2 linked regions of the Homo sapiens genome follow. The protein of the gene in region 1 purifies or fractionates together with the protein of each later gene. This does not show direct contact. Each region holds a gene or a part of one and is shown on either strand. Other genes may lie near its edges.

Region 1 (4,235 bases):
CTAAAATTTTCTTGGTTTACTTGTGTTTTTCCACCCCTGGTGTTTAGCAAAATCTCTCTTGAAATCTCCTGTCTGTTATCCCAACCAGAACGAAAGCAGAAGGAAAGGAATTCGCAGCAAAGGAATCGCCACCTGTCACATCAGTTGAGTTCTGTTACCTCTACATTAAAGTGGCCCTTCAGTTTTTCTGAGCTCTGAGGTGGCTCTGAAAGTTTAAGGAGGGTTCAGAGGGGAGGGAGCCGAGGTGGGGAAGAGAGAGCACTGCTCCACTCTGCTGCCAACCAGCCACTCTTCTTGAGCACAGCTGACTACATTTCAGAGAATCTTCACCACGGTGGGGAGGGGGTGTATGTTTCTCATGGAGAATACTGCAAGGGCTAAGCCTTATGTCCCTCTTGTGGGAGGTGAAACACACAGAAAGCAATGGCTGAGGGACTAGAAGGCAGAGTCCCTCCCACCTGCCCCACCCCCGGCTTCAAGGCAATTTCTTTTTGACCCAAGGGGGCAGGAAGGAACCCAGCTGACACCTGGCACCCGGACGGTGCTTTCTAACAGTGAGTTTGTTTTTCACCCTCAGCCTGGCATTGCAGCCTTGTACCCTGGCTGAAGAACGGGGAGACCGGGCACAGAGGCTGGGGTATGAGCCTGCCCTGAGTAGGAAGGTGATGGCCTTGGGTGCCCTGCACTGACCACCCTCCTTTGCCCACTTCAGGGTCATAGTGAAGAATGCAGAGCAGAATCCCATCCTAACTCTACAGCTGACAAGCCATGTGGCTCTGGGTGAAAAACTCCACCTGGTTCCTTTTCTGTAAAATAAGGAACCAAGACCCAATAAAGCTATACTTCACAGGTTTGTTGTAAAGTTGGAATGGGTCTGAGTGCTGGGCCTGGCCCTTGGTGGGTGCTCAGGAAATACCGTGTCCTGCTCAGTTTAATTTTGTTGTTTTGCTGTCCATTTAGAGAAGCCAAAATTAACAAAAACAAACAAATAGCCCTCCTGGTCAGGCTCAGCTCTCAGCCTCCTCAAGGAGTCAGCCCTGAACCTTCATCCGGAGGGTGCCTGTCTCTGTTTCCCTTTTTGAGCTTCCAGACTCAGCAAGCAAACGCTCCCTCCTTTTACCCTGGAAATGTTTTCCCTCCTATGGAAAAGGTATGAAGGCTTCTGGCCGGTCCAAGGACTTAGGAGGTGACCTGTCCTGTCCCTCTGCAGCCCGAGAAGCTGCCGAATTACAGATGTTGCTGCAGGCAGGAACCATGAGTGGAACTCCCTGGCCTGGAGCTGCAGGACAGAGGCCTCTGTCTGAACCTGGGGTCTGAAGCACCGTGAGAGAAATGACTCGAGAAGGCCCCACATCCTGCCCACACAGAAAGAGCCATCATGCAAATTTGCACGCACACACACACACACAGAGAGAGAGAGAGAGAGAGAAGACAGTGCTACTGAAGGCCTGTGGTGAGGCCAGCAGAGGCTCAGGAAGGGAGCAGAGGATGGCGGTCTGAGGTAGGCAGAGAGTATCCAGGGGAGAGATCACGGGGGTAGGGACAGAATGACAAAGGGGACCCAGTACAGCTGCTGCCTGGGGAGGACAAAGACCCCTAGGGGGCTGGGGCCAGGCTGGGCCTCTCCTCCCTGGGTCCTCTCACCCCACATCCCTCACCCCTTCTGTGGGTCTCTCCCCCTTCCCCAACAAAGAGCTCAGCAGCCTGTGTTCTGATCCCCATGCTAGGCGGTTCCTTGTCTGTAGGAGGAGGGGGCCACGGGATGCTCTAGAGTCCTAGGCAGCTGGGAGACAGGCCTGCTTGGGGACCACTTTTTAAAGCTGGTCCAAGGTCCAATGAACGGAGGAGTATTTATCATCAGCTAATGACAGGCCACCCTTCCCTGCATTCTAGCAGAGGAGTGACTTCAACTGTGGAATTTTAGGCCCTGGAATAAGGGGGGAATGGCAGTGTCAGGGGACTTTCCCTCCATGCAGCTACCTTCACTATAACAATAATGACTACAGTGGGCCTTAGTTTCCTACACAGGCACACTTTGAGAGTTCAGTGGTTCCTGTTGCCCATCAGGACAACAGGCCTAAGCCAGAGCTAAACCAGTAAGGAGGGTCCCCTTACCTCTCCTCGAGCTTCTCCAGGATGGTCCTGGAAGGCAAGATGAAGCTGGGAGCCCCCTGATGGCCAAGTTGACTCTGAGCTCCTGCAGCAACCACACCCAGAGCCACCCCCACCCCAAACCCAGGCCTTCCAGACTCCCTCTCTCCAGAGTCTAGGGTCGAGAATCACTTGGGACCTTTGGCCACAAAAGCCCCCACTGGGTACTCAGCCAGAGCAGTCACTGGGGACGCAGTGACACTCACAAGAGGATTAGCAAGGAGCTTCCTTCACCCTTCACTATTGCAGACCTCCAGAGGCTCTGCGGGGAGCCAGGGAAGGGAAACAACAGAGGTCCGTGGGGCCAGGGCAGGGAATCAGAGAAGGGTCAGATGAGGAGGGGTAGGCTGAGGGAGGAGGGGGACGGGACACAGAGCAGGAAGGGGGAAGGAGGGGCCTAGCCTAGCCCAGGCTCATGGCAGGTGCACACGGCACTGCCAGAGCCCTCGCCTCTCCCCTGCCCACCTGCCCCAGCCCCTGCCACAAGGACCCACATGTGACTCTCCACATTCCCTGCTCCCACAGGTTCCACCAGCCCCAACCTAGGCAGACCCACTTAGCTCACCTCCAAAGGACCCAAGAATGGATGGCTTGGCCTGGGCTCCCCAAGAGCACTTCCTGGCTCACAGTCGGCTTGCCCAGTGAATGTGGCTGTGACGGCTGGAGCTTCCGACTTCCGCTCCTCCTCACCACAACACACACCCCTCCTGCTCCCCGCCGCCTCCCCAGGGTTCCCTAGCTGCTCAACACCTCACACTTCCTGCCCACAAGATAAGAGCCTCTCTTCCTAGGCCCAGCGCCTGCAGCCCCTTTCCCCATGCCCCTGCTCCTTGGAGGCCCCCACCCTGCACACCAGCCTAGAAAGAACCTGCCATGGTGGAACTGGCCTCTCCCTGCCATGCAGGGGCCTGGGATTGAAAGGGGAAGGGGCCGAGGCCTGGTTGGTAAGCAGGCCCCACCTCCTTCCTCCCTGCGCTTCTGCCCCAGGTTCTCAGTCTTGCTCTGGCTCTTGGTCCCCTGCAGGGCACCCAGTGAGAGACAGGAGGGCCCTAAGTTGGGCAATTTCTGGTTTTAAAACAAATGACATTTCAATTTTTGTGTGACTATGTCTCATGTCACTGGTAATAATGCAAATGATACAATTGCCTTTTAGTTACAAAGTTTCTCCCAATAGTACCTCAATCCCTCCTCACACCTACTTTATGAAGCATTAATAACCCCATCATACAGATCCGGATCTGGAGGCAAGCTCAGAGATGCTAAGCCACTGCCCAGGGTTGCACAGCTGGAAAATTACAAAGCTGGGGTTAGAATACAGAGCCTGTGACTATATGAACCAAGGGACCTCCATTCCCCGTGGCTGAATTCCCAACACACGTCCTCAGGACACCGGCCGCAGTGTCCACAAGTGTAAGTGAGGCTGGTGGGGAGCGCAAACACCATGCCATTCTCCTCCCTCCACACAATCTACTTCCTCAACATCAATGACCGTCAACTTCTCTGCTGAGGCTCCACCACTCCCACCCTCCCTGAACTCTCGTCTTCATGATTCCAGCTGACCCAGAGACTCCCTCACTTGCATGTCCACACAGCAGTGGGGACCAGCCACCCTGACCCAGAGTTGAGAGGGTCGGGCTCTAGCTCACCTACAGCCGCACCCCTCCCTGCAGGGTACAGAGTCCACAGGAACATACCAACATGGAGCCCGTGCACCCTGCTTCTCCACCACACTCTGCGTGCCCCAGATCCCGAGACTCTCCACTTCTGGGGCCCAAATGGCCTCCTCCCCATGTGGGCACACAGCACCGCTGCCCTATGCAGCCTGAGACTGGGTGAAGCGCTGGCAAGAGTCCTGATAGCAGAGACGGGAGCAGGTAGAGAGAGCTCAAACCTTTGGGCAGGTCACCCACCCACATGCACGTGTGATACAGAGCAGGGTGGGGAAGAGAAAGGGAGGTGGAGCTGTGGCGTGGGCCAAAGGCTGGGGTGGGCTGTGCTGTGGCAGCAACATTCAGAGGCGGCTAAGAATCCTCCTTCAAACCTGGAGCTCCAGGCCATGATGAAAGTGGGAGGTAGGAGAATTA
Region 2 (3,500 bases), on another chromosome or scaffold:
AAACCATAAAGTTATTTAATTTTATTACTTTAAGACTGAGGAGGAAGCAAAAAAGTGTGATTTGCGTCAGCTGCAGAGCCTTTTGGGGTTCTGAAGGAAGGGGAGAATTAATCTTCTGTGTATTTCATTGAGATCTATTTAACCTCTTATTTCTAAGCAAGCCTTGTAAGAGGCTTTTACCTTTTTTTCTTTTCAATTCTCCTCTTTTTCTTCTCTTTCTCCCAGGTAAGCATCACAGTGATTCATGAGTTCGGTGTGTGAGAGCCTTTAACCTTGGGAACTGGACCTTTGTCTTTCCCATTTTAAGTCCTGCAAGTGTCTAAATGTTTTCTTTCAGAGTGTGACAAAGGCAGCATTCACCCTGAGCTTATTGTTGCTTTTAAAGGAGCTCCCAAAAAATTTTGGAAAATTTTAAACTACAACTTAAAACAGTAGTGAGACCAGGCACAGAGGCTCACACCTGTAATCCCAACATTTTGGGAGGTGAAAGCAGGAGGATCACTTGAGGCCAGGAGTTTGAGACAAGCCTAGGCAACATAGTGAGATTCTATGTCTATTTTTAAAAATAGTTTTTAAGTTAGCTGGCCATGATGGCTAACAACAACACGTGCATACCTCCCCCCGATAGTTTCACACCTATAGTCCCAGCTCCTCAAGAGGCTGACACAGGAGGATCGCTTAAGCCCAAGAATTCGAGGCTGCAATGGACTATGATAGTGCAGCTGCAGTCTAGTCTGAATGACAGCGTGAGACCCTGCCTCATAAGGAAGGAAGGAAGGATGGAAGGAAGGAAGGAAGGGAGGGAGGGAGGGAGGGAGGGAGACTTTTGTTTTAAATTCCATTTATCCAGATAGTTTAAAACAGACAGACAAACACATGTATCTGTCTGATCAACAAAAAAGTAGGTCAGGCATTTCCAGGAACCTCACATTTATGAAACTATTATTATTGCCTTAGTGATTACAGCAAAGGGTGGAGAGTCTGCCAGGGTCAAGCCGTGGTCAGAGAAAGTCACTTTGTCATGGAACTATTTTAACTGAGACTGCCTTAGGAAGCCCCAGAAACCACTGCTTGGTCCCCATGGGGCTGACTTCATTAAGAGTGTATCTACTTTTAGATCATATTCAGCAACACGTGCATACCTCCCCACCAAAAATAATTGCAAAAGCATAACTTTTTAAGAGAAATAAAAATCAATGTATATATTTTTTAAATAGAATTTTTAAAGGTAAATTATATTAAAGTGTTTTTCATTGGTTCTAATCAAGGAGGGAAGGCAAATGTTTTTCTTTTAGTGAACAATATTCTTTAAAACTCTTAAACTGGGAGCAGAGGAACGTGAAGAATTCTTTCAGAAGGGCTTCATGTCACCTCTTCAACGAATCTTTTCTTGGCAGAATTATCAACAAGTAGCAGCAGCCATGAGTGCTACTAAGTGTATATTGAATATCACTCTCCTGCGTGCGGAGAATCTCGCCTCAAACAAAATGGACAAAGACTTTCCCTTCCTAGAGCCTGTGTTATAGCTGGAAATAGCTCATAAACTAGTCATCAAACAAAAGATATGAATTTCAAATCATGATAATAACTAGAAGAAAAAGAAAAAATGAAAGGATAGTGAGTGACTTGGAATGGAAAGCCCAGCATTAAGGAGGAGGGTCGTGGCCCTGCCTGAGTGATGAGAAGGCTTCAGGCTGAGGTGAGTAGTGTTTGCACATGGGGACGAGCTGATGCCCAAGCAAAACTAACTGAAAGTAATTGGGGAGCTGTGTGTGGTGATGCACATCTGAAGATCCAGCTTCTCGGGAAGCTGAGGCAGGAGGATCGCTTGAGGGCAGGAGTTTGAGGCTGTATTGTGCCTGTGAATAGCAACTGGAGTCCAACCTTGGCAATGTAGCAAGATGTAAGAGTGAGAGAGAGAGAGAGAAGAGAGAAGACAGGAAGGAGGAGAAGAGAAGAAGGAGAAGGAGAAGAGGAGAGGAGAAGAGAAGAGAGAAAGGAAGAACAAGAAGGAGAAGAAAGAGAAGGAAAGAACAAGAAGTAGTGGAGAGTGGAGTGAGCAAGGGGGAGTGCGGCAGACACAAGGAGGAAAGGAGGAAGGTATGGGCTGTGGACCACAGGAAGGAGGTTTGAAACAGGAATGTGTGAAAAGAATCCTATTTTCACTTTGGCAGCTATGCAGAGCCTAGATTCTAGAGTTAATAAAGTCAAGAGACTGTGAGGAGGCTGCAGCAGTCTAAGACAACATTGATTTATGACTTGCTCTGGAAGTCAGGCTGTGAGGATAGAGAGAAATGGAAGACTGATGGTCTAATAATGAAGTCACTAGGATCTCACCATACCTTAGCTCTGTAGTCCAGTGCAGTAGCTTCTTGTATAATATTGTTGGGTTTTTTCTGTTTGTTTTGTTGTTGTTTTTTTTAACTGAGTCTTGCTCTATCACCCAGGCTGGAGTGCAGTGGTGCAATCTCAGCTCACTGCAACCTCCACCTTCCAGGTTCAAGCGATTCCCCTGCCTCAGCCTCCTGAGTAGCTGGGATTACAGGCACCCACCACCATGCCTGGCTAATTTTTGTATTTTTAGTAGAGACAGGGTTTCACCATATTGACCAGGCTGGTCTCGAACTCCTGACCCCAAGTGATTTGCCCGCCTTGGCTTCCCAAAGTACTGGGATTGCAGGCATGAGCCACCACACCTGGCCTTGTATAATATTCTTTACAAGAACGTTCATTTTTAACCACATATGGTTAAGTTTAAATTAATTAAATGTGAAAATTCAATTCCTCCTTCACACTTTTTTAAAAAATAGCTACTCTTTATAGTATCACTAAAGTTGGACACATGCATATCCCATGACCCAGCAATTCCATTCCTAGCATTCCCCTCCTGTAAGAAACATGTGCATGGCCAGGCGAGGTGGCTCATGCCTGTAATCCCAGCACTTTTTGGGAGGCTGATGGGGGAGGATCACTTGAGACCAGGAGTTTGAGACCAGCCTGGGCAACATGGCGAAACCTCATCTCTAAAAAAGTACAAAAATTAGCCAGGCATGGTGGGGCATGCCCGTAGTCCCAGCTATGTGGGAGGCTAAGGTGGGAGGTTGACACTACAGTGAGTCGTGATGGTGCCACTGCATTCTAGCCTGGGTGTCTGGAGTGAGATCTTGCCTCAAAAAGGAAAAAAGAAAAAGAAAAAGGCCAGGCATGGTGGCTCACGCCTGTAATCCCAACACTTTGGGAGGCCGAGGTGGGCGGATCTCTTGAGGCCAGGAGTTGGAGACCAGCCTGGGCAACATGGCAAAACCCCATCTCTACCAAAAATACAAAAATGAGCTGGGCATGGTGGTGCACGCCTGTATTCCCAGCTACTCAGAAGGCGGAGGAACAAGAAGCTCTTGAACTTGGGAGGTGGAGGCGGAGGCTGCAGCGAGCCAGGATTGCACCACTGCACGATAACCTCCCCAGAGCAATGGCTGCTGCTTCTCTCCACCCTCCCAATC

Evidence for each region. Proteins that work in one complex are often made in the same cells at the same time.
Region 2: the proteins of PSD4 (region 1) and GLB1 purify together in Homo sapiens (affinity purification with mass spectrometry; one large-scale study listed by BioGRID and IntAct). This does not show direct contact.

Annotation. Positions count from the first base shown.
Region 1 is NC_000002.12:113,172,536-113,176,770, reverse strand, and holds the start of PSD4 (PH and SEC7 domain-containing protein 4), read right to left. Parts: upstream 2,801-4,235; 5' UTR 2,717-2,800; intron 1,502-2,716; exon of another isoform or gene 1,003-1,501; intron 1-1,002. UniProt on the Homo sapiens protein: Guanine nucleotide exchange factor for ARF6 and ARL14/ARF7. Through ARL14 activation, controls the movement of MHC class II-containing vesicles along the actin cytoskeleton in dendritic cells. Involved in membrane recycling.
Region 2 is NC_000003.12:32,999,647-33,003,146, reverse strand, and holds part of GLB1 (beta-galactosidase isoform a preproprotein), read left to right. Parts: intron 1-3,500.